5 linked regions of the Homo sapiens genome follow. The protein of the gene in region 2 interacts with the protein of the main gene of each other region in a pairwise test. Each region holds a gene or a part of one and is shown on either strand. Other genes may lie near its edges.

Region 1 (4,642 bases), on a different chromosome or scaffold from region 2:
GCACAGGGACGCCCAAGAGCCTCACAACTCCCTGCAGTCTCCTTTCTAGCCGGAGTCACTGTTTCCTTTACCTGTCTGGGCCCAGGAGCCCCTGAGCTTCCAAGCCCCGACCCGTTGGCAGTGGTTCCCCAGGTGGCAGGTGACTTGCCAAGGCCACAGAGCCAGGATGGGAAGGAAGTGTGGGGCTCCAGCCCAGTGACGTTTCTGAAGCAGCCCCTCCCCAGCCTTGCTGAATGAAGGGCTGAAAAGGGGGTCAGTTCCTCAGGGAGGCAACCAGAGAAGGGCAACCCCAAGGCTGCTCTTCTCCTGTTTCCCAAGTGTACAGGCCAAGGAGCAGCTCAGATGGGGCTCCGACGATGCCTCCTCCAGGCAGTCTTCCTGATGCCCTGAAGAGTGACCAGGCCCTCCTGGGGTGCCCCTAGGGGACTGCAATGTGGGTTGTCCCCCGCGCTACATGAGCCCCAGAATGTAGTTCCTTGTTCACTCCTGTCTCCCATATTGCTCAGGGCTCCCGGAGGGCAGGACTGAGCCTTCACTCCTGTCACCAGGGCCTGGCCAGGCACTGATCTAGGGACAGGCCAACCTGCTCTGTGCACTTCTCTGAGCCTGGGACATGGGGATCCCTGGGCGCAGATGACCTGAGGCCCATAGTGAGCACAGGCTCCACGGTATGTTTAAATCTCCCCTCCACCCTTCACCAACCACGGGACGCTGGGTCATCTACTTAAGCCCTCTATCCCTCGGTTTCCCATCTGAAAAACAGGGCAGCAGCAGAGCCTGCCTCCCAGGGCTGTTAAAGAGGCAAGTGGGCTAATGCCCTAAAAAGATGCCTAGCTCGGGGAAGTGTCAGTTAAATAGCTACCCTTGTTGTTACCTATTGGTATTTCAACTGATGCTCACCCACCTATGTTGGCTGGATGGGGGAGCTAAATAACAGATTCTCGCAGCAGCTGCTACTGGCAGGGACCCTGGGCCCTGCCCTCCCTGCGGCCACTGGGCATGCAGGGCCAGGCCTGCTTTGGCCACATCAGTGACCAGTGACTGGGAGACGGGATGCCCACTGCCCCCAGCTGCAGGCCCAGTGGTGGGGACTGGGCTGTCAGGCGGCGCCCAGGGCTTGCTCTTCACCACCCCCACATTGGAGACCGAAGCCAAACAAACCACAGCTGCTTCCTGACTCTTCTTATCTGAAACACACAGTCTTGGACTCTGTCCTTTGCGGGCTGTTCTCATTACCCAGATTGAAACCAAGCTTCCGAGCCCTGGTATCTGTTCCCCTGAAGCCGTGAGGCTGGGCCCAAATCCCGGGGTCAGGCCCTCATCCGCCCAGAGGCCTCCAAAACAAAGCAGAGGAGCACAGTGATCTTTTAAGGAGATGCAAAGACAAACAGGGCCCAGGGCTGCAGTGAGTTTCCAAGGGCACGCCCAGCATAAGTGGTACATGGGAGCCTCAGCGCGCTGCGACCACAGCAGGGAGGCCCCACGGCCCTGCCAGTGGGGTGACTGGGACAAGAAGGAAACCTGGACCACTCGAGCACCTCGTCTCTCACCCGCTGGGTCTCTTGGGCAAGTCACCTAGACTCGGTGTCTCAGTTTCCCCTCTCAGGACTGCCATGAGGAGTCCTGCAGGCACATGGAAAAGGCTGGTGTACACAGCAGGCACTCACCATGGGTCTGGGGCTTCTGCATGGGCAGGAGGGGCAGTGATGAGCTGGGACTGAGCCTCCCTGGCAGCGGCCTCTCTAGCAAAAGTGAAGGCTGACCGAGGCCTGAGTCAGCTGGAGAAGGTGCCCAGGGGCCGGACTCCCCTGGCTCACACCCACCACCCTCACATCACCACCCAGGAACCAACAAGCCTGTCAGCTCTGCCTGTGAACACCAAGGGCCTCAGCTCTGCTTTGAACACCCAGGGCCTCAGTCAGCTCGGCCTGTGAAGACCAAGGGCCTCAGTCAGCTCTGCCTGTGAACACCCAGGGCCCCAGCATCCCGCCTCAGGATGGAGGTGAAGGACGCCCGTCCCTCACAAGTCTCCCTCAGGGAGAGGGGAAACTCAGCACCAAGGGCTTCGCCCGCATGTGGCCTCACTCCCGAGAGTGTGGCTGTCACCTCTGGCCTGCCACCCTAGTTGGTTACAGAGGGCCCGTGAATTTACTCCACATGTTTGGACGCTGTTGCAAATGGAAGCTGTGAAGTGCTGCAGAGGCCCTGGGAAGAGAAGGACTGCAGAGGAGTGGGGGCACCAGCACCACCTCGAGTGGGTGCCACAAAGGTGACAGGTGCAAGGCTCTGAGGAGGTGGGTAGCCCCACTGGATGGACGCCTGTGCACAGCATGGGAGCTGCACAATGCTGAACTGCAGAGGACCTGGCGGGGGGACCCTCCAGGGGTGGCTGAACCCCGTTCCCACCCAGCTATCCCTGAACATCCCCAGCCTGGGCTTCCCAGCCTGCTCCCTTACCGGTGCCGTCTGCTCTTTCCCGGCTCCTGGTATGCTGGGCCTGGGGTTCAGCGGGGGCCGCTGCGTCTCTAACACCAGGGCCAGGGCCAGCCTGGGGTCCGGGTGCTCGGGGCCTTTCGCTCCTCTCCTGCTCCAACGAGGCTGTGGCATTGAGTCGGGAACGCGCCTGGGGCTGCGGTGCTGGCGGGGGCTGTGGGCAGGAGGGGCCCAGCGGAGCAGTGTTGGAGTCCATCCTGCCTGGAAGAAAAGTCAAGGTCAGGCACATCCAGCACCGGCAGAGCCCGCTCTGGCACTTAGTGTCTGCTGGAGACAGAAAAGCAGAGGGAGGCAGGTGGGAGCTGCCAGACACTCCATACAGGATCTCGCTGACACTCAGTACAGTCCCCATGGGCCAGCACCGCTTCCAGGGAGGAAACCATGGGAGGACACTCACCCACGTGACTCTACAGATGGCATGGCACTTACAATCTCAGACCTGCACATGCCGAGGCCTGGAGTCCCTGCCTCACTGGGCATGAGCCACACAACCCTGGCCTTCCCTCATCCAAGAAACGGGGATGATGATAGCAACACCCAGAGCCCACCCATGTGGAGCCTGGCTGCAGGGGGCTGAATTGGGCCCCACATCATGTGCCCACCAATGTCTGTGAATGTGCCCTTATTTGGAAAAACAGGTCTTTGAAGATGTATTTAAGGATCTTGAAATGAGATCAGCCTGGAGTAGGGAAGCCCTGGCTCCAAGAGCTGATGGCCTATAGGAAGAGAAGTGTAACAGAGCCATGCGGAGACGGGTGACAGTGGCCAAGGAGCAGGAGGACCACTGGCCACTGCCAGAAGCTGGACAGAGGCGAGGAACTGAGCCTCCCTCAGAGCCTCCAGGAGGGACCCACCCTGCCCACACCTTGACTTCAGACTTCTGCCTCCAGAACCATCAGAGAACAAACCTCTGTTGTTTTAAGCCACCAAGTTTCCAGTAGTTTCTTACGGAAGCCCTAGAAAACTAATACGCTGGTACTGAGTAAAGTTAAGTAAATATGAGAGGGGAAGGGAGCTGGGGAGGGGAGAAGAGGGCAGGGGAGAGAAGAGAGGGAGCCAAATGGGTGGAGCTGGGATTCATACCCAGATCTGCCGCTCCACAGCCCCCACCCCAGGCCCAAGCCACAGCACCGAAGTCAGAGGACTGATGCCCCAGAAACCAACACAGAGAGTAAAAAGCAAACTAAGGCAAACAGTGCGGTGGGGGCATCAGAAGAGACTAGAGTGAGCAGAGATCCCGTGACCCGTGTCACGCCGGAGCAAGGGCTTTATTTTATTCAACAGAGGCCCTCACATGCTGCTTAGCAACATGGAAAAACACCACCATCCCTGTAATGAAGGACAACCACCGGCCACAGACACAGAGCTGAAAGCGCTGCAGGATCCCGAGCCCCGGACCCGGATGGGCCCTGGATGAGCGGCGTTAGGGGTGGGATGCAAACCCCTGGCACTGCTGGACCTTGAACCTGCTGCTGTGTGAGGCTGTGGAAACTTTTCCTCAGATTCCCAAATGACCCTCCCAAGCTCAGGGCCACAGCCATCCTCTGAGGCACAGAGCAGGGAGAGGCTGGTAACAGAGAGTCTCGCTCCCAGCCCCAAGCTGCCGCAGCGCTGTACTCCTGGCTCTGTGCCCACCAGCTGTGTGGTCCTGAGCAGCCCACATCCCGCTCTGCACCTCAGCCTCCTCATCTGAAAATGGGGACGGGGCAACTGTGAGGACCAGTGAGACCAGACACCATGGGCAGCACGAGGGAGTCCCCTGGCCACCTCTGAACACCCAGCGCTTGGCACTGAGCAGCCAGGTCTGAGTAGGTGCCCAGAGGTCACTTTTGGGGGCAGCTGTGACTGGAAGAGTCAGGAGTGGCCCCAGGCTCCACACACAACAATTTCTGCTCCATTCCCGCTGCAAATGAGTCCTAAAGATCAGACTGGTGTCGCTCAAGAACTCTGCAGATTTCAATCCACACGTTCCTCCCTCAGAGGGACTGAGCCCTTAGTGTAAAACATCCCCCAGGTGCAAACCATGCATGGTCAAGCACACCCCCCCCCCCCACCCCACCCCCGTGCATCCCCCAGGTGCAAACCATGCATGGTCAAGCACCCCCGGGTGCATCCCCCAGGTGCAAACCATGCATGGTCAAGCTTGGGA
Region 2 (4,642 bases):
ATGGATGAGCAGACTTGAGCTCCTGGTGAAGCCCTTCCCACACTTGTCACACTTATAAGGCTTCTCATCTGTGTGGACTGCCTGATGGATAAGCAGACTCGAGCTCCTTGTGAAGCCCTTCCCACATTGCTCACATTTGTAGGGTTTTTCTTCTGTGTGGTCTCTCTGATGAAGTAGTAGCTCTGAGCTTTGACTGAAGTTCTTACCACACTGACTACATTCGTATTGTTTCTCTGCAGTGTGGATTTTCTCATATGGATGACCATCTGGGCTGGTGTTAAGTATTTTCCCACAGTTATTATGGTCACAGGGTTTCTCCTCTGTATGAGCTCTCTGCTGACTACAACTGACCACCTGTGATTTCCATCCATGAATGTCTTTGCAGTTACAGTCAATGGGATCCAAAGATTCTTTTAACTGGCCATTCTGGCAAGTTGCCTCACCATTTAACAATGGCGAGGCCAGTTCTTGTCCATCAGACACCAGTTTAACTTGAAGGTTCTCTGAACAACTTTCCCCCTTTATCACTTTTCTCTCAGTGCTTTCTTCCATTACAAAGAGACGTCTGCTTTCCTGATGATCCTGAGGCTCATTCTTACAGAACTTCACTGAAGAGTCTTGTGTGTCTATTTGGCTTGAGACTTTCAAAGGCAAATATGTTTCACTTTCAATGTTTTCGAAACAACCACTTTGAAGAGTCATCACACTGTCCCTGTTTCTGGAAATAGGAGAAGATGCTTCTCCCCACTGTTGACAAGGGGAAATATCTAGTTCAGGCTCCCCATCCACTTCCCCTCGATGATTCACAATACAATCCTGACTTCCAGTAATTGTACTGGCCATGCCTTCCAAAACTAGCCAGGAGGAAAGCTCATGTAACAGATCCTGAAGTGTTTTCTGCTGAAGATTCTCCACAGAATTTTCATTCAAGTCTCCTAGGGAACAAAGACAATTCAGTGGTAAGAACAAAGGGTAGACTTCAAGATTTCAGAGTGAGAGTGCCTAAGGCCTGAAGTCTTAGTAACTAGGAAAAAGTTCAGCTTGTCTTTATAGTCATGTCCTTTGGGTTAAGGTCAGGTACATTTGTATCTGGGTACAAGACAGAAATTTTCTCTTGGCTTTTAAGCATAGCCAAGGAAAGTCTTCCCTAACTAATCCTATAGAAGGCTGTAAGTCCTATATCCTTGCTAACAATAACATTTCATCTCATCTCACTTCATTTTTTTTTTTGAGACAGAGTTTCACTCTGCTGCCCAGGCTGGAGTGCCGTGGTGTGATCTGGTCTCACTGTAGCCTCCACCTCCCAGGTTCAAGCAATTTTCCCACCTCAGCCTCCCAAGTAGCTGGGATTATAGGCACATGCCATCATGCCCAGCTAATTTTTGTATTTTTAGTAGAGGTGTGGTTTTTCCATGTTGACCAGGCTGGCCTCCAACTCCTGGCCTCAAGTGATCCATCCGCGTCAGCCTCCCAAAGTGCTGGGATTACAGGCATGAGTCACCACACCCGGCCTACTTTCCTTTAAGTAAATTTGCATTTAATTGGTATTCTGCTTTCATAGGTGTGGGGAATACAAGGAAGAAAATATAAATCCTTTTGCTTAACAAGCTAAAGCTTCCTGGGAAGACAAATACACCAAATAATGATAATACTAAGTGAGTGGTGTAGATGAATGTATAGTACAATACAGTACAAGAGATGTATGCCTAACCAGCCACGAAAGCACAGCAGAGGAACACTCAACTCAGACCCTGGTGTTTAGGAAGATTTCTGGGAGAAAATGACAGGAAAAACAAAAAACAAACAAAAAAAAGGAAGTGAAATGTGGAGAGAAAATATGACATGTTAAAGAAAACTACAAGCGGCTTCTTACGAAGGAGATAAAAACAGTAAGAGTGGTGAAGAATGTGCCACGGAGGGGAAGTAAGAGGACAGAGCAAAGGGCTTAGTGTCTAATAATAAGGACCTTGGGGCTAAACCCTGAAGGGATTGAAAACTATTAAAGAATTTTAATTCAGAGTGAAATGACTGACTTTGTGACAATAAACACCACTGGAAAGCAAGACTTTAGGTAGCGAGACGGCTGCCATAGCAAATCAGAAGAAAAACGGTAAGGATGATAGTTGTGGAGAGAATAGGAGAAATTCATTCTAGATCATGTGATGATAAACTAAACCTAGAAGAGAAAGGAGGCACCAAGCCTGTTCCTTGGGATTCCTGCCTGAGTGACGGTATGGTGGTGCTATATAATCAGATAGGAAATGCAACAGGAAGAGGCTGAAGTAGGGAAGGCAGCAGAACTGCCTTGTATAATCTGTGGTGTTGGTGGAACATTCTTGCAGTACTGGTCCGTAAGCTGTGAGATATATATAGGTCTGGAACTCCTGTGAGAGAACTGTGCTAGGAATACAGAGTTTAGACTTACTGGTATATTAAAAAACAAAAACAAAAACAAAACCCTCCCCGAGACTTAAACAATTAGAGTGAATAGCCTAATATTACACTGAAATGACAAGAAATCCATAATACTCTTGGGAAAACAGAAAGGCTGATATCATCAGAATAAAAACATTGAGGAACTCCTAAATGATAAGGAGCAGATGGATTAGGAGTGATGGAGGAACTAGGGGAAAAAAATGTACAGCTCAAATTATGTATAACAGAAGGCTTCTTCGTGGGTAAAACATCCTAAGAAATCATAGAAATTCAATTACCAAACTCAGAATCAATAATTACAAAGTAAGGGAGCACTGACCCCATTTCTCTGGAGTCTATGTCTCAGAAAATAATAAACAATGATAAAGTAAGACATTTCCTAATTCAACTTAGGCATTCCTAACAGCTGTGCTAGTTTTTGCTGTTAGCAGCACTCTCCCAGCCCACCCTCTTCCTCTTAGAAATAGAAATATTGGATGGCTAGCAGCAGTGCCCTCATATAAAGCCTCAAGAATAAAATAAATGATCTGCCAAAGAAAGACTGCTAATAATATTAACTGGACTGAAGAGAGAAGCAGAGGTTGAGGTAATGTTGAACGTACACAATGACCAATGGATTAAGGTACAAAAAAGAAGTAATTGACAACATAAGTGCCCAGGATAAAACTTCAAGCTAAACTTTTTAATGGGAGTTCTGACAAGGAAGATAGCCCAGCGCTGGAAATAAAGAAGCAGGGCATGCCCCAGATAACTCAGTGGCAAAAGAGGTGGACTTAAAAAATGGCCTACACCACTGTGCAGGGGAGTACAGGGAATAGGAGGCCCACCTGAGGCTCAGCCCTAGCCCTTAGCCCATCCGTGGGGCCAGTTTACTGCCTGGGTAGTCCCCTTGCCCATGTATCCAGCTACAAAACAATTCAAATTTTTTCTTTTTCCCAAAATAAAACCTCAGCTAGCTCTGCCAACTGTCAAAAAAAAAAAAAAAAAAAAAAAAAAGGCCTATAATATCCACCATCTGGATTCTTATTACCTCCCTCCCTAGCCCAATCAGCAGAAGTGTCCCCTAAAGTAAAACACATATGCATGCCAAAGTGGGTCAAGCATGGGTTGAGGACACACTCCAATATCATGCTGAGAACACAAGAATTTTGAAAAAATATATAAGGAGACCAACAGAATTTAAAAGGTACATAATTAAAATCCCAGAAAAACTGGAGAGGATATCACATTTAAACACAATCTAATAATAAAATATAAACATATTGCTATGAAAAATAATAATTCTAAATAAAATGACTGAAGATGATGATAGGTTATGTCACTTGTTTCCTAGATATGTGTCAGGCTGTTTTAGTCAAACGCCTGCAATCTAGATGAGTTAAATAGTAAAATGAACACATGGCTAAGATGGAAGATTGAGGAATTCTCCAAGAATGCAAATGAAAAGACAGACAAATAGAAAGATAAAAGTAAAAGCCCATCTTCAAGGAGCTGCATGAGGACAGTGAAGATGGAACACAGGGAGAGAAAATGATCAAAGAAATAATAACAAAAAAATGTTTCCTAGAATTCAAGATTCAGGGCCCAATAAATGCTAAAAAATGGTATGTAAAAAGACCCCAAACTAAACATACTCTTTTAAACCTCAGGACTTCAAGGAAAAAACAAACAAACAAACAAACAAACAAACAAAGAAACAGAAAATGCTAAAAGCTTCCAAACAGAAAAGCCAGGTTATGTGCAAATAAATGAGAATTATATTGACACTGAACAACTAATTGGCAATATTGCAAATCTTCAATATCTTCAAATTTTGGGTTAAAAGTCATTGTGAAATTATAATTTTTACCCAGCCAATTAACCATTTCAGTGGGAGGAAAAAATAGACACTCTTTCAGACACGAAAAGATTCAATTACTAAAACAATCATTCAGGAATATACTATAGCAAAATTTTTTAAAATTTAAGAAAAAGGATACATGCTGCAAGAAATAGCAGTAAGCCAAGAAGTCAATACAATACATAATTAGGCCAGGCATGGTGGTTCATGTCTGTAATCCCAGCATTTTGGGAGGTTGAGGTGAGGTGATTGCTTGAGCTCAGGAGTTCGAGACCAGTGTGTGCAACACGGCAAAACTCTCTCTACAAAATACAAAACAAAAACCCCCAAACCCCAAAACCATAGTTGAAAAATAAAAGAAAAAAA
Region 3 (4,642 bases), on a different chromosome or scaffold from region 2:
TTCAGTTCCCATAGAAAAACAAAAGAGTGTTTACACACAGTCATTATAGATAAGCCAGCAGTGTGTGTGATTAGGGCCAAACCAGTATTGATGATGGCCTGATACTGACTTTAGAAAGTTTGACTCACCTTGCAGAAATGAAAAGCCAACATAATGCATTAGCGTCTATGAAGACTGTAATAAGGCAAATACATTTGTCCAGAAACAGGCTGATATTGATACACTGATTTTAAGTGCTTTTCCCCAAAAGTACAATAGAGAAAGCCAGGAATATATAGCCTTGGATTACAATAAATGATAATAAAACAGCAGAAGCAAATAACACTTAATAGGGAAGTTTATTTTCCACACTTCATCAGATTGCTACTGCAGAGTACTAGTCTAAAAATTTAATATGAACACTAGCTCTGTAAATACGGGAGAAGTAATCTCAAATCATCCTGAATTAATTATCTTTGTGCTAAGCTGTTTGACATTACTCATTGAAAATAGCTTCTCAAGACAGGCAGTATTTTTCTACACACAAATAATTGTGTTCTCAGGTTGGAAATGTTGCCACATATTAAGCCAAACACATTTTTTTGCTTCTAATTCTTATATTACTATCAGTTTATTTCAGGGAAAGTTAATTTGAGAATTGAAATCATGTAGCAGAATAATTTTGGTTGAAATTGATGTTTCTAAGCCTGATGCATTTTCCATTAGTGTTACATGGTATCATTGGAAGTTTGTACAGTGAACATGCCAAACATTAGGTTTAGTTTTCTGAAGACTCTAGCAAGTATTCTTTTTTTTTAAATCCACATTGTATTAGTTTAACTGGCAGGTAGTAATTAGTTTTATATTGAGTGAGCTAATTTGCCACTACTAGCAGATTTTGAAGTTATTTTAATATAAATACATTGTCCTCTACCCCCAAACTTTATACTGAAATTTTTCTGCTAAATTTTAGGATTATAATTTTGATAATGGCCCAGGATATTGGAATAAAATATAAATGTGAGTTAGCATTAATATCTCAGTTTAGAGAATAACAATAAAAGCAGGAATGTGACCTGCAGCCACATTTCTTCAGTATCGGGGGAAATTCAGCCCCCAATATTTGACGTGGGTCCTTTTCTATTTTCCCTAAGTATTGGCCGGTCTGAGAAATAAAGGGAAATAGTACAAAAGAGAGAAATTTTAGAGCTGGGTGTCTGGGGGAGACATCACATGTTGGCAGGTTCCGTGATGCCCCTCAAGCCGCAAAACCAGCAAGTTTTTATTAGTGATTTTCAAAAGGGGAGGGAGTGTACGAATAGTGTGTGGGTCACAGAGATCACATGCTTCACAAGGTAATAAAATATCACATGGCAAATGGAGGCAGGGTGAGATCACAGGACCGGGGTGAAATTAAAATCGCTAATGAAGTTTTGGGCATGCATTGTCATTGATAACATCTTATCAGGAGACAGGGTTTGAGAGCAGACAACTAGTCTGACCAAAATTTATTAGGCGGGAATTTCCTCGTCTTAATAAGCCTGGGAGCGCTACGGGAGACTGGGGCTTATTTCACCGCTTATCCACAACCGTAAAAGACAGACGTTCCCAAAGTGGCCATTTCAGAGACCTCCCCTTGGGAATGCATTCTCTTTCTCAGGGGTGTTCCTTGCTGAGAAAAAGAATTCAGCGATATTTCTCCTATTTGCTCTTGAAAGAAGAGAAATATGGCTCTGTTCTGCCAAGCCCACAGGCAGCCAGACTTTAAGGTTATCTCCCTTGTTCCCTCAACATTGCTGTTATCCTGTTCTTTTTTCAAGGTACCCAGATTTCATATTGTTTAAACAATTTGTGCAGTTAACACAATCATCACAGGGTCCTGAGGTGACATTCATCCTCAGCTTATGAAGATGACAGGATTAAGCAATTAAAGTAAAGACAGGCATAGGAAATCACAAGAGCATTGATTGGGGAAGTGATAAATGGCCATGAAATCTTCACAATTTATCTTCAGAGATTGCAGTAAAGACAGGTGTAAGAAATTATAAAATTATTAATTTGGGGAACTAATAAATGTCCATGAAATCTTTACAATTTATGTTCTTCTGCCATGGCTTCAGCCGGTCCCTCCGTTCGGGGTCCCTGACTTCCTGCAACACTCCAGGGTCAGCAGTAGAGAGAGGCTAGTTGAGCACTTGCCTCAGGTACAAAATTTAAGGGACACCAAGACACTTAGTAATACAAATAAATATTTTATGCATTTTAGAAAATCAAGATTAATGCAAAAAATCCATAATGAACAAAATATCAAAATTTTAAAGGAAGACAGGATCAGTATTACTGAGTTTTCCTTTTGTGTCAGGCTCCAGTTTGGTTTGTAATAGCACTGTTACTGATCCTATCTATAAAGTTTTAATATTTCGTTCATCATGGATTTTTTACATTAATTTTGATTTCCTAAAAATATTGCATTAATATATTATTTATCTTGGAACACATCTGAATTATTGGAGTAAAGACATTCTGAAAAGTCTCTCCTGCACAATAACAATGAAAGCACTGGCAAAAATATCAAAATAAACCATTTTAGAATGGTGGAAATTAACGAAGGGTTTATAACAATCTGAGGAATATTTATTCAAGAAAAAGGACTGAATCTCAGTAAGAACAGTGAACTTTGTCATTTTTAAACTTACCTTATTCCCATTCCTTCATCCGCAGCTCCATTGTAGCCTTCAAAACTAATAGCCTAAGTCAGGCACAGTGGCTCACACCTGTAATCCTAGCACTTAGAGAGGCTGAGACAGGTGGGTCACCTGAGGTCAGGAGTTTGAGACCAGCCTGGCCAACAAGGTGAAATGCTGTCTCTCCTAAAAGTACAAAAAAAAAAATTAGCCAGGCATGGTGGTGTGTGTATGTAATCTCAGCTACTTGGGAGGCTGAGGCAGGAGAATCGCTTGAACCCGGGAGGTGGAGGTTGCAGTGAGCTGAGATTGCGCCACTGAACTCCAGCCTGAATGACAGAGTAGGACTCCGTCTAAAAAAAAAAACAAACAATAACTAATAGCCTAGAAGCCACTGAAAGGGACAAAACAGGTTTAGAGCCCTCTAAGATCCCCAGTCTCAGAAAATTGTCACTATATGATTGCTCTAGAAGCTTCTTAAAAAACTCCATTCTCAAAGCTTGTTTTGCAGAGCCCTGTGGCATTTTTGGAAAACAATCAGCAGTAATTGTTTAACCTCTCAGCTGCCTGAGGCAGTGACACCAGTTGGGGTTAACAAGAGGTTAACCAAAAAACTTAAAAGGAAAAATTGGAAAAGGAGCTACCTATGGGGGCTTTAAAAACCTTTGATGTAGTCTTTGGAATCTAGAAGTCCCATGTCTGTATGTCCAGGAAATACTTAATAAGGCCTTAATCTGTCATCTCAGACTAACAATGAGGCTTTGCATAAGTAAAGTAGGAAGAGAAGACTAAGAGTTGTAAACTACCTGCTGGAGTGTTAAAAGCATGTACCCCACCCCCCAACACGCGTAATCCCTCAGCAAAGACAGAAATCTCTGTACCGTCATTAGCTGACCACTGAAGCTAGACTTCAGCAGCTGCACATGATAAACAAAGTAGACTTTACATAATTAGTCTGGGAAATAGCAATAGAAACAATAGTAGCAACAAATATAACAACAAACCTTTATGCAGAGTGGAATCTTATTTCTAGGTTGCCATATTTTTTTAAATCCAGTTTTCAACATAAAATTTCCACACACACAAGCAGTAGCATATGGGCCATAACAGGAAAAACAAAAGTATCCCTGAGAAAGTCCAGATACTGGACTTAGTAGACAAACATTTTAAATTAGCTATTATAAATGTGTTCGAAGAGCTGAAGGAAACCTTGTCTGAAGAATTAAAGTAGAAAAATGATGTCTCTTCAAATAGAGAATATCAATAAAGGGGGAAATTGTTAAAAAAGGAACAAAATAGAAATTATGGAATTGAAAAGTACAATGATTGAAATGAAAAAATTTACTAGAGAGGCTCATCAACAGATTTGAACTAGCAGAAGAAAGAATCGGCAAACTTGAAAATAAATCAATTGAAATTATATACTATGAGGAACAGAAAGTCAAAGGAATGAAGAGAAATGAACAGAACATCAGATTTATGGGACACCATTATGAATACCAACATATGTATAATTGAAATCTCAAAAGGAAAAGAATGAGAGTAAGGGGACAGAAAGATTACTTGAGGAAATAATGGACAAAAACTCAAGCAGCAAGAGAGAAGTGAGTAATCATGTACAGAGGATCTTCAATAAGATTAACAGCTGACTTCTCATCAGAAACTGGAGGCTAGAAGATAGTGGAATGATGTATTGAAAATGCTGAAAGACAAAAAAACTGTCAATCAAGAATTCTATATCCAGCAAAACTATTATTCAAAAAAGAACAAAAGATTAAGATGTCTCAGAAAAACAAAAACAGAGAATTTGTCACTAGCAGACTGTCCCTACAAGAAATATTAAAGGTAATCTTTCAGTTTGTAACTAAAGGACACAAGTCAGTAACACACATCCACAGGAAGAAATAAAGAGTAGCAGTAAAGGTAATTATATAGGTAAATATAAAAGAGTACAAACCACTAAGAAAATAACTAAAAAA
Region 4 (4,159 bases), on a different chromosome or scaffold from region 2:
CCCATCTGTGTTCTCGCCAGCGATGCCTGAGCAATGGGTATTCCAGAACCCCACGAATACTGGGCTGCTGGGCTCGAGTCCTGGGGGAGGGCGTGGTCCCCATGTCTTACTGTGGAGGAGATGAGGGCTGCAGGGATGGGCACTGTGGTCCATAGCTGGTCTCCCCAGGGGTAACAGGAGGGGTGAGGCTGCTGGCTGGAGCTAGGCCCCGGGTGGGCTACCCCAGTCCTGGGGGGCAGCCATGAGCTGGGGAGGGTGAATGTGGCTCAGGGGCCCAGAGTGCTGCCAGGGTCCACTTTGTCCCGAAACTCCTGGCCTTGGTTCCAGAGGCAGCTTTCCTAAGATGGGCCGGGGGGCCATGTGCTGGGGTTGGGGGCCCACGGGGCTAAGAGGGAGACTGGCCTTCAGGGTTCACAGAGGCCAGCACCAGAAGGCATTGCTTCCTGCCTCATCCCATGCCCCTCGGGGGTCCACAGACAGGATGAAAAGTCGACAGAGACAGAGGGGTGGAGCCAGGCCTGCTGGGGGTCAGGACTCTCCCTGCAGTCAGGGGTGGCATCACTTCCCACCTCACCCTGTGCCCCCCGGGGGTCCACAGACAGGACAGAGGTTGGTGTGAGACAGAGGCGGCTTTATTAGAACTAGAGGGGGTGCTGCCCAGGGTGGAACCAGGCCTGCTGGGGGTTAGTTCTGCAGAACTTGGGTCTGGGGGAGTAGCTGGGGTCTCTCATGCAGCCAGCATCTGGGAAGGACAGGGGGAGCATCCTGGTCCCTAAGACAAAGAGCCTGCCCCATCTTCTGAGGGTGTCAAAGCCAGAGAGGGCAGAGCTTGCTGGGGCAGCTGGGAGGTCAGCCCCTGGTGGGAAGGGACTCCGGATCACATCCAGGGCTGTCAGCAGCTGGACTTCTGGCCAGAGCAGAGGCTGTAGCAGGCAGGGCGGGAGCACATGGGGCGGCAGAGGAGGGAAACACAGGAGGCCGTGCGGCAGCAGCTGGGCTGGCAGGAGGAGGCAGAGGCACCACAGGAGGGGACGGGCACGCAGCAGGTGGACTTGCACACAGGGTGGCAGAGGAGGGACACGGAGGAGGAGGATCTGCAGCAGGAGGCGGTGCAGCAAGCCGGCTGGCAGCTAGACTGCTGGCAGCATGATGTGGAAGCCCCAGAGCAGACGGGCACACAGCAGGCGTGCTGGCAGGGGGAGGAGGTGCAGCAAGCTGGCTGGCAGCTAGACTGCTGGCAGCATGAAGAGGAATCCTCAGAGCAGGTGGGCACACAGCACACAGGCACGCAGCAGACGGGCACGCAGCAGGCCTGCTGGCAGGGGGAGGAGGTGCAGCAAGTTGGCTGGCAGCTAGACTGCTGGCAGCATGAGGGTGTGCAGGAGCTGGTGCAGCCTGATTGGCAGGGGCTGGGCTCACAGACCGCCTGGCAGCAGGGGCTGGACACACAGCTCACACAGCTAGACTGCTGGCAGCACGAAGAGGAAATCCCAGAGCAGACAGGCTTGCAGCAGACGGGCACACAGCAGGCCTGCTGGCAGGGGGAGGAGGTGCAGCAAGCTGACTGGCAGCTAGACTGCTGGCAGCATGAAGAATCCCCACAGCAGACGGACACACAGCACACAGGCTTGCAGCAGACAGTCTTGCAGCAGACGGGCACGCAGCAGGCCTGCTGGCAGGGGGAGGAGGCACAGCAAGCCAGCTGGCAGCTAGACTGCTGGCAGCACGAGGGCGTGCAGGAGCTGGTGCAGCCTGATTGGCAGGGGCTGGGCTCACAGGTCACTGGGCAGCAGGGGCTGGACACACGGCTCACTGGGGTGCAGACCAGGCTCAGGCAGGGGGCCGGGGCGCAGCAGGGGGGCTCACAGCAGCTCTCTGGGCAGTCGTCCACCTGCCAGGAGTCGGAGCAAGAGTCACAGGAACCAGGAAGGCAGACGCGGCTGCCGTAGCTCAGGTCGCTGGAGCAGACGGACATGGTGGACGCGGCCATGCTGGGGTTGAACTGGTGGAGGGTGAGGGAGTGAGCCTGTGAGGTGCTGAGGCTCTCGGGCTTTTATTCCACCTGGCCTTGTTGTCCCCGGGCCCACAGCTTCCCCTTCCGTGTTGCCGAGAGCTGGAGTCTGCCGGGATTAGGGGTGTTTGTTCGCCCGTGATGTGGGCCAGCTCATAAATCTCCCATCACATCTGGGCTGTGTCCCATCCCATGTGGATCCCTGGCGGCAGGAATTGGGCGGGGCCTGGTCCCAGCTGGGTTCGGGGAGCTGGGAGAGCCACAGGTCGCGGCATCGTCCACCCCTGGCCCCAGCAGCCCCGGGACACAGAGTCCCTCTGCAGGAAGCCGGCCTCAGGAAGTGTCCTTGTGGTGAAAACCCCTCATCCAGCGTGGTCCTTCCCCCATCACCGGACACAGGACTGTGGCCATCTTCTGAGGGACAACCTGGGGCCCATGAGCCTTCATTGACCTGCCCTGGGCCATGGCATGGTGGGGGTGGGGGGCAGCTGTAACTGTGCCCAGACCTCTTGGCTTTGAGCTCTGGACGACTTCTCATCCCCACAGCCTCTTCACCTCCGGCCCTGTTTCGTGTCCACCTCGTCTTTGTGTTTTGGAGGCAGCAGGACCTGTGTGTTCCAGGGCAAGGACGGTGGGCTTGGCCCCTCCCTGCTTGGACAGCATGACAGCCTTCTGGGCTGTGGTTTTGGGTTCTGAACCTGCAGAGTAACCGTGCTGAGCAGCGGGCGGTCAGCAGCCCTCGTCCCCGCCTGGGGTGGCTCCTCTGTGTGCTCTGCTTCTCCGAGGCTGCCCGTCAGCCCCCACCCAGCCTCCTGCTGGGCCCATTTCCCAGCCCTGTCTTCCAAGCCCTGTGCCAGGCCTCTTAGTGTCACCACCTTAAAATTAAGGGACATCTGTCCAAAGAACCCGCACAGAAGACACAAAATGGGTCCATGAGAAGTTGATCTCACTGCAAACCCATTGCCAGTGTAAACGAAACATAAAATCCTAAGCCCCTCAACTGACTAAATGGATCCCATCTTGCCCACGGGGACCCCCGAAAAACTGCGTTCCTGGCCATGACAGGAAGGGAGGTCAGACACGCCTCGTTACACCCCCTCCCTTTAGGGTTTCGACACAACCACTACCCAGCACTAAAGTTAAAATAGAGACCGTAAGACCCACAGAGCAGACTCTGGCAATAAGATATCAAATTACAAACAGGACCTCAGGCCGCGCCAGGCAAGGGACAAGCCGCGTGCCCTACACTGAGAGGACGGACTCTGCTCTCACGCCACAGCTGCTGTTTTTCTACAGTGGCTAAACACGCACTGGCCCCGCGATGAGGATGAGCAAGGTTCAAACGACTGCAGCTCATCCACCAGCAGATGCCAACTGACCACGTTCCACAGCCATGACCACAGCTCTGACTGGGCAGGAGACTGACTTCAGGAACCTCCTCCTGATAAGGGACCCCCAACCATGGACTGGCTCCAGCCGGTTTACAGAGGCTGTGCACTGGAGTGCCTTTGTGTCCTGAGAAGACTTCTGAGGTTTAGGGCCTCATTGCGACCCATTGACATGATAAGACTCCACCCTGTAAGAAGTACATTTCAAGTGGTCCGTATTCAGAAAACAGGCCCTGGCAAGTCCAGGCAGCTCCCTTGCAGATGTGACAAGCCACACAGTACAGACATCTGGGAAGAGTGATAAGACTCACAGAAGTCAGAGGGGAGGAAGAAAAAGTGACGGATGGCTAACACATAAAAGGAAAGAAACTTTTGCCATTGAGAAATCAAATGTAAAGTGGGGAAGGGGACAAGATGTAACCTTATAAGGGGATAATGAAACTTAGGTGACGTCCAGGAAGCCTGTGACCCCATAGTACTCAGGCTGCGAGGAACTGGGCGAGGGACCTGCACACTAGGGGATAAATTGCTTGTTGAAAGTGTGCTGGGTGTGCCCGCCCATCAGACACCAGATCTTGCAAGACCGACATTAAAGTCTCACTTTCACTGTTCTTCATGCCTCTAAGTCCATTCTTTGGATTTGGACGGGTCAGTGTGTTTCTCACAACCGCAGAGTGAAAACAGGTCGTATGTTACATGCATGTTTGTTCAGTTCCTCCTTCGTGAATATTCACTATTCCTCCATAACCTATTGCACATG
Region 5 (4,642 bases), on a different chromosome or scaffold from region 2:
CTTCCGTCTTTTGGCGTCTCTTCTTTCTTCTACTCTCCCTTAAAAACACTGCTGTTTCTCACTTGTCATCTTTCCATTATTACTTAATATTCTCAATGGGAAATTTTCCACTGGCCTCAACTACTATATATGCTGAAGATGTCACTATAACTCTACCCTCTTAACCTTTTTGAGAACTCAACCTATAGTTAAAGCACCTTGTTGGACACTTTCTACCTTGACATCCAGTAAGCACCCAGACTAAAAAAGATCAAAACTGGGTTATTTTCCCATTTAAAAAACCGGGTTCATCTCTATTCCCACCTTCATTTAAAAGCATTACAGCGGCCTAAATTTAAAATGTTCAAGTCATCCCACAACCTTCCTACTCCTTCCTTCACATTCAGTCAAATAATCGTTGGACATTTGAATTTCTTCTCATATGAGTCCCCAATAGTTCCAAATGCTCTATTCCCAGCTCTGTTTTGTTGTCTTACTACATTCTTCCTCATCAACTGAAGTTCATTTTCTTCTCCCTCCAGTCAACTGTCCTAAGAAGCCCTGCTTTACACAAATTGGATTATCATTCCCTCACTTAAAATACTGAGTCGCCACTGTCTACATGATGAAAACTTCACCTGGTGTCTCTCATTAAGTATCCTTACTGACTAAAGATAGTTGTGGTGAGGAGGGAAGGTAGCTCAAAGAACAAATTTTCTTTCAACTCTTCGGTGTTTCATCTATAAAATTAATGGGAACTCTGTTCAAAATTCATCTTATTACTAACCAGTCAGATAAATATTCAACTTTTCAAGAAAAACTGATTTCCAGGGGCTTCTGCCATGCTCATATTGTGTCTCATATTTTAGGCCTAGCCACCATCCCTTGCCCCACAGTTGGTGATATACAGGTAAGCACAAATCTACACTACTCACAATCTGGTCCCTCAACACTTTCCTTAACAACTCCTCCAAACAACTGTATCCAAAAAGGTATTGCCTTTCCTCCAACTTTTTCTTCTTTCTGTGCTTGTCTTCTGCCCCCTCTCTTCCTGGTTGGAATACCCTTCCCCCATTCCATGCTCTCATTCATGGCTGACTCTTAAAATGCCACTTCTTTCCTGAAGCCTTCCTTCACACAGTCACCATCCTGCCACCAACTCCCAGGTAGAATCACTTTCTCCTTGAGCCTTGAAGAACTTTATAACCAGAACACCCATCACATTTCAGAAGTATCTATTTCCCTTGTGGACTGTGATAGCGATTTTAAAGTTTTAATTATCTTTGTATCTCCAAAGCTAAGGCAAAAGTCAAGTGCCTAGTAAGCACTCATTCAAATGCCACTGAACTGAATTTCTTTAGGAAAAAGTTATTAATGGTCCCTGTTCAAATCTATCCTGAAAGTGTAAAAAGTCAATATATATAATCCAGCAACTAAAATTCTGAAATGTTTAATACTGCTTTTACATATTAAGGGGGGAAACCCCAGAACTCCCCAATCTCACAGTATAAAAATAACACAATAAAACAGTAAAAAAAAAAAAAAAAGAGTTTGGTGACTGTGCTGAAGTGAATAAAAACACTCTGAAGTGGTAAAAGTTACAGTAACTTTGAAAAAGTGGCATCAGAAAAGACACAACTCACTAAATTTTATCTAAATTTTTGGCAATCCTGCCACGGGATGCTAATATATAGAAGTCATTAAAAAACACTGTATTTGTGAATGTAATTCCTAACTACATGAACAGCTCAAGCAAAATGTGTTTAATCACATGCAATAGTATCACTAAATACTACCAGGAAAAAGAATTACATTCCACATTCCAAGTTCATAATGGCCTTTATCCAAATTATAACTCCTGTTAGAAAGGCGTGAACCCAGGAGGCGGAGCTTGCAGTGAGCCGAGATGGCGCCACTGCACTCCAGCCTGGGAGACAGAGCAAGACTCCGTCTAAAAAATAAATTAAAAAAACAAAAACAAAAACAAAAACAAATTATAACTCCTGTCATACAGATTAAATTTAGACATAAAATTATTAAACTGATATTAGGCTGAAATTTAATTCCAATTACTCTTGAATTTACTAAAGGTTATTCTTTGCTCTCCAAACACAGAAAGAAATGCCTTGCAAGGTAATTCAGAAATTTCAGACACAAGGCAATTTCCACCAGTCAATCCTACATCTGAGTAACAGAAATGATATATTAATTCAGAAGTACAAAAAAATCAGTTATGATTCTAGAACTCTTGGACTAAAATCCCAAAGTTAAGTAAATCCCACACCCTCGTTTTAAATCAGAAAAATTAAAAATCTGAAATTCTAGAGAGCAGAAAAATAATTTGTCTCTATATTTATGAACATTTACTTTATTATGGGCAGAGATTAAATGACATTTCTGGCATTTATTAAGATCGTATCATTTCTCTCCATTAATCTTCAAATGTGATAAAATGCACTGCTTTTCTCATGTTGATCCATTCTTACATCCTCAAGATAAACCCCATTTGACTGTGAGGCTTTGTTTTGTTCTAGTTCGCTGAGTGAGGTTTGATTTGCTAGTTCTTAAAAATTTGCAGCCACTATTTGTAATATTTCGTCTCCTCTATTCTCTTCTTTTGGAACTGTTAGCTGTATGTTGGAGTTACTCATCTTATCCTCATGTTTCTTACTCTTCCTATTTTATATCTCTATCTTTGGGTTCAGGCTTCTGGGCTTCTGTCCATTGCAGAAGATTTTAGCCTTTTGTGTCATGGATGTTTTTGGCAGCCTGGTAAAGCTTATGACCCCTTTCTCAGAACAATATTAGGGGCCTAAAACAACATACACAGTATTACAAAAGAAATTAATTATATTGACATAGTTATTGAAATATTTTTCATTTTGATATGGTAATAATGCGGTTCTTTATTAACACTTTAAAATATATGCTCTAGCAATAGCTTTAATAACTATAATAATTTCAAATTAGTGATGACTATAAATGGTATTTCAAGATAGCTGTAACAGCTAACAGCAATTGTGCTATAAGAAAAAAAAAATCCGTAGTTTCTATTGGTGTTATGGGTTGAACTGTGTCTCCCCCAAAATACATGTAGAAGTCCTAGCCCCATGACCTTATTAGTTAAGATGAGGTCATACTGCAGTAGGGTAGGCTCCTAATCCAATGACTGGTATCACTCAAATGAAGATAGAAACACACAGGGAGAACACCGCCATGTGATGATGAAGACATGGAATTATGCAGCTCCAAGCTCAGGAATGTGAAAGGTTCCCAACAACCACCAGAAGCAAGGAAGACAAAAGAAAGGATTCCCCTACTGGTTTTAGAGGGAACATGGCCCTGCCAACTTTTTGATTTTGGACCTTTAGTAATTGTGAGACAATAAACTTGTTGTTGCTTTTTAAGCCACCCAATTTGTAGTACGTTGTTAAAGCAGCAATAAAAACTAACACATTTGCTGTCACAAGTACCTCTAATACTGTCATAGCTTGTTAACACTTCCTTTAATTATGAATGTTCAGGTTGAGATTAGTAAGAACGTCACATTTTCCTTCAAGCCCGCAAACACTCTGAATTTTAAGAATGCTTTGTCTACAGCAACATAATACCTTAGCGTGAAATCCATTATTAATGAACTGTTTTTCATTCTGAGTATCGCAAAAACACAATCTCACAGATATGTAATAATTTTGGTTCTGGATTCTGAGATGCAGCTATGACATAATACTTATCATAAATCTAAACATTAAAGAATAACAAAATTCATTACCTGAGTTAACTTCTTAAACTAATATACAGTTATCCCCTAGTGTTACATTACTGATTTGTATAAGTGACCTAGTAAAAAACTTACTTCTGTAAGTAAAGCATAAAGACTGGTATCTTGTTAGCATATTCCTTGTAGAACTAATCAAGTTGGTGTTTAAGCCCAATAGCCTTTGTTTACTTATTCATCCACAGATGGAGGCCATACTTTTTTTCTCTTTTTTAAAATGAGGGCTGTGCATGGTGGCTCATGCCAGTAATCCCAGCCCTTTGGGAGGCCAAGGCAAGAGGATCACTTGAGCCAAGGAATTTGAGACCAGCCTGGGCAGGACCCGATCACCACAAAAAATTTTAAAATTAGCCAGGTGTGGTGGCACACCTGTCGTCCTAGCTACTTAAGAGGCACAGGTGGGAGATCACTTGAACCCAGGAGTTCAAGGCTGCAGTGAGCTATGATCATACCACTGTACTGCCCTCCAGCCTGGACAACACTGCAAGACCCTGCCTCTTTAAAATAAATAAATACATAAAAAACAAAATTGAGTAGTACAAAATTTTGTGTCATCAAAGATACATGGCTATTAAGCCCAAAGTAAGTCTTAAAAGACTATTAATATACCAATTGTTTCCAAATTTTGTATCTTAATTGTTCAAAATGCATGCTTTTACCTAATCTTCCTACCACTTCTACTCTTAAGTCTTTTGTTTAAGTATGTCAAAAATAACAATATAATAAAATTAACAAAGTCTAAATCATACACCATCAACAAAGGAAGGGCACATATGATGCTTAGTCCAAATTCTTTAATTTATAAATCAGCAAACTGAGGCCTACAGAGCCCAGGATTAGAGAATAAATTAAAAATAGCTACAAAAGAAATCCATCTCCCAATTT

The links.
Region 1: the proteins of ZNF239 (region 2) and WFS1 interact in binary tests that used the Homo sapiens proteins (3 or more experiments, as listed by UniProt).
Region 3: the proteins of ZNF239 (region 2) and MTUS2 interact in binary tests that used the Homo sapiens proteins (3 or more experiments, as listed by UniProt).
Region 4: the proteins of ZNF239 (region 2) and KRTAP10-6 interact in binary tests that used the Homo sapiens proteins (3 or more experiments, as listed by UniProt).
Region 5: the proteins of ZNF239 (region 2) and SPRED1 interact in binary tests that used the Homo sapiens proteins (3 or more experiments, as listed by UniProt).

Annotation. Positions count from the first base shown.
Region 1 is NC_000004.12:6,275,503-6,280,144, reverse strand, and holds part of WFS1 (wolframin), read right to left. Parts: intron 2,695-4,642; 5' UTR 2,690-2,694; coding exon 2,458-2,689; intron 1-2,457. UniProt on the Homo sapiens protein: Participates in the regulation of cellular Ca(2+) homeostasis, at least partly, by modulating the filling state of the endoplasmic reticulum Ca(2+) store.
Region 2 is NC_000010.11:43,557,237-43,561,878, forward strand, and holds part of ZNF239 (zinc finger protein 239), read right to left. Parts: intron 936-4,642; coding exon of another isoform or gene 844-935; coding exon 1-843. UniProt on the Homo sapiens protein: May be involved in transcriptional regulation.
Region 3 is NC_000013.11:28,826,513-28,831,154, forward strand, and holds part of MTUS2 (microtubule-associated tumor suppressor candidate 2), read left to right. Parts: intron 1-4,642. UniProt on the Homo sapiens protein: Binds microtubules. Together with MAPRE1 may target the microtubule depolymerase KIF2C to the plus-end of microtubules. May regulate the dynamics of microtubules at their growing distal tip.
Region 4 is NC_000021.9:44,590,495-44,594,653, forward strand, and holds KRTAP10-6 (keratin-associated protein 10-6), read right to left. Parts: upstream 2,012-4,159; 5' UTR 1,991-2,011; coding exon 893-1,990; 3' UTR 774-892; downstream 1-773. UniProt on the Homo sapiens protein: In the hair cortex, hair keratin intermediate filaments are embedded in an interfilamentous matrix, consisting of hair keratin-associated proteins (KRTAP), which are essential for the formation of a rigid and resistant hair shaft through their extensive disulfide bond cross-linking with abundant cysteine residues of hair keratins.
Region 5 is NC_000015.10:38,258,883-38,263,524, reverse strand, and holds part of SPRED1 (sprouty-related, EVH1 domain-containing protein 1), read right to left. Parts: intron 1-4,642. UniProt on the Homo sapiens protein: Tyrosine kinase substrate that inhibits growth-factor-mediated activation of MAP kinase. Negatively regulates hematopoiesis of bone marrow.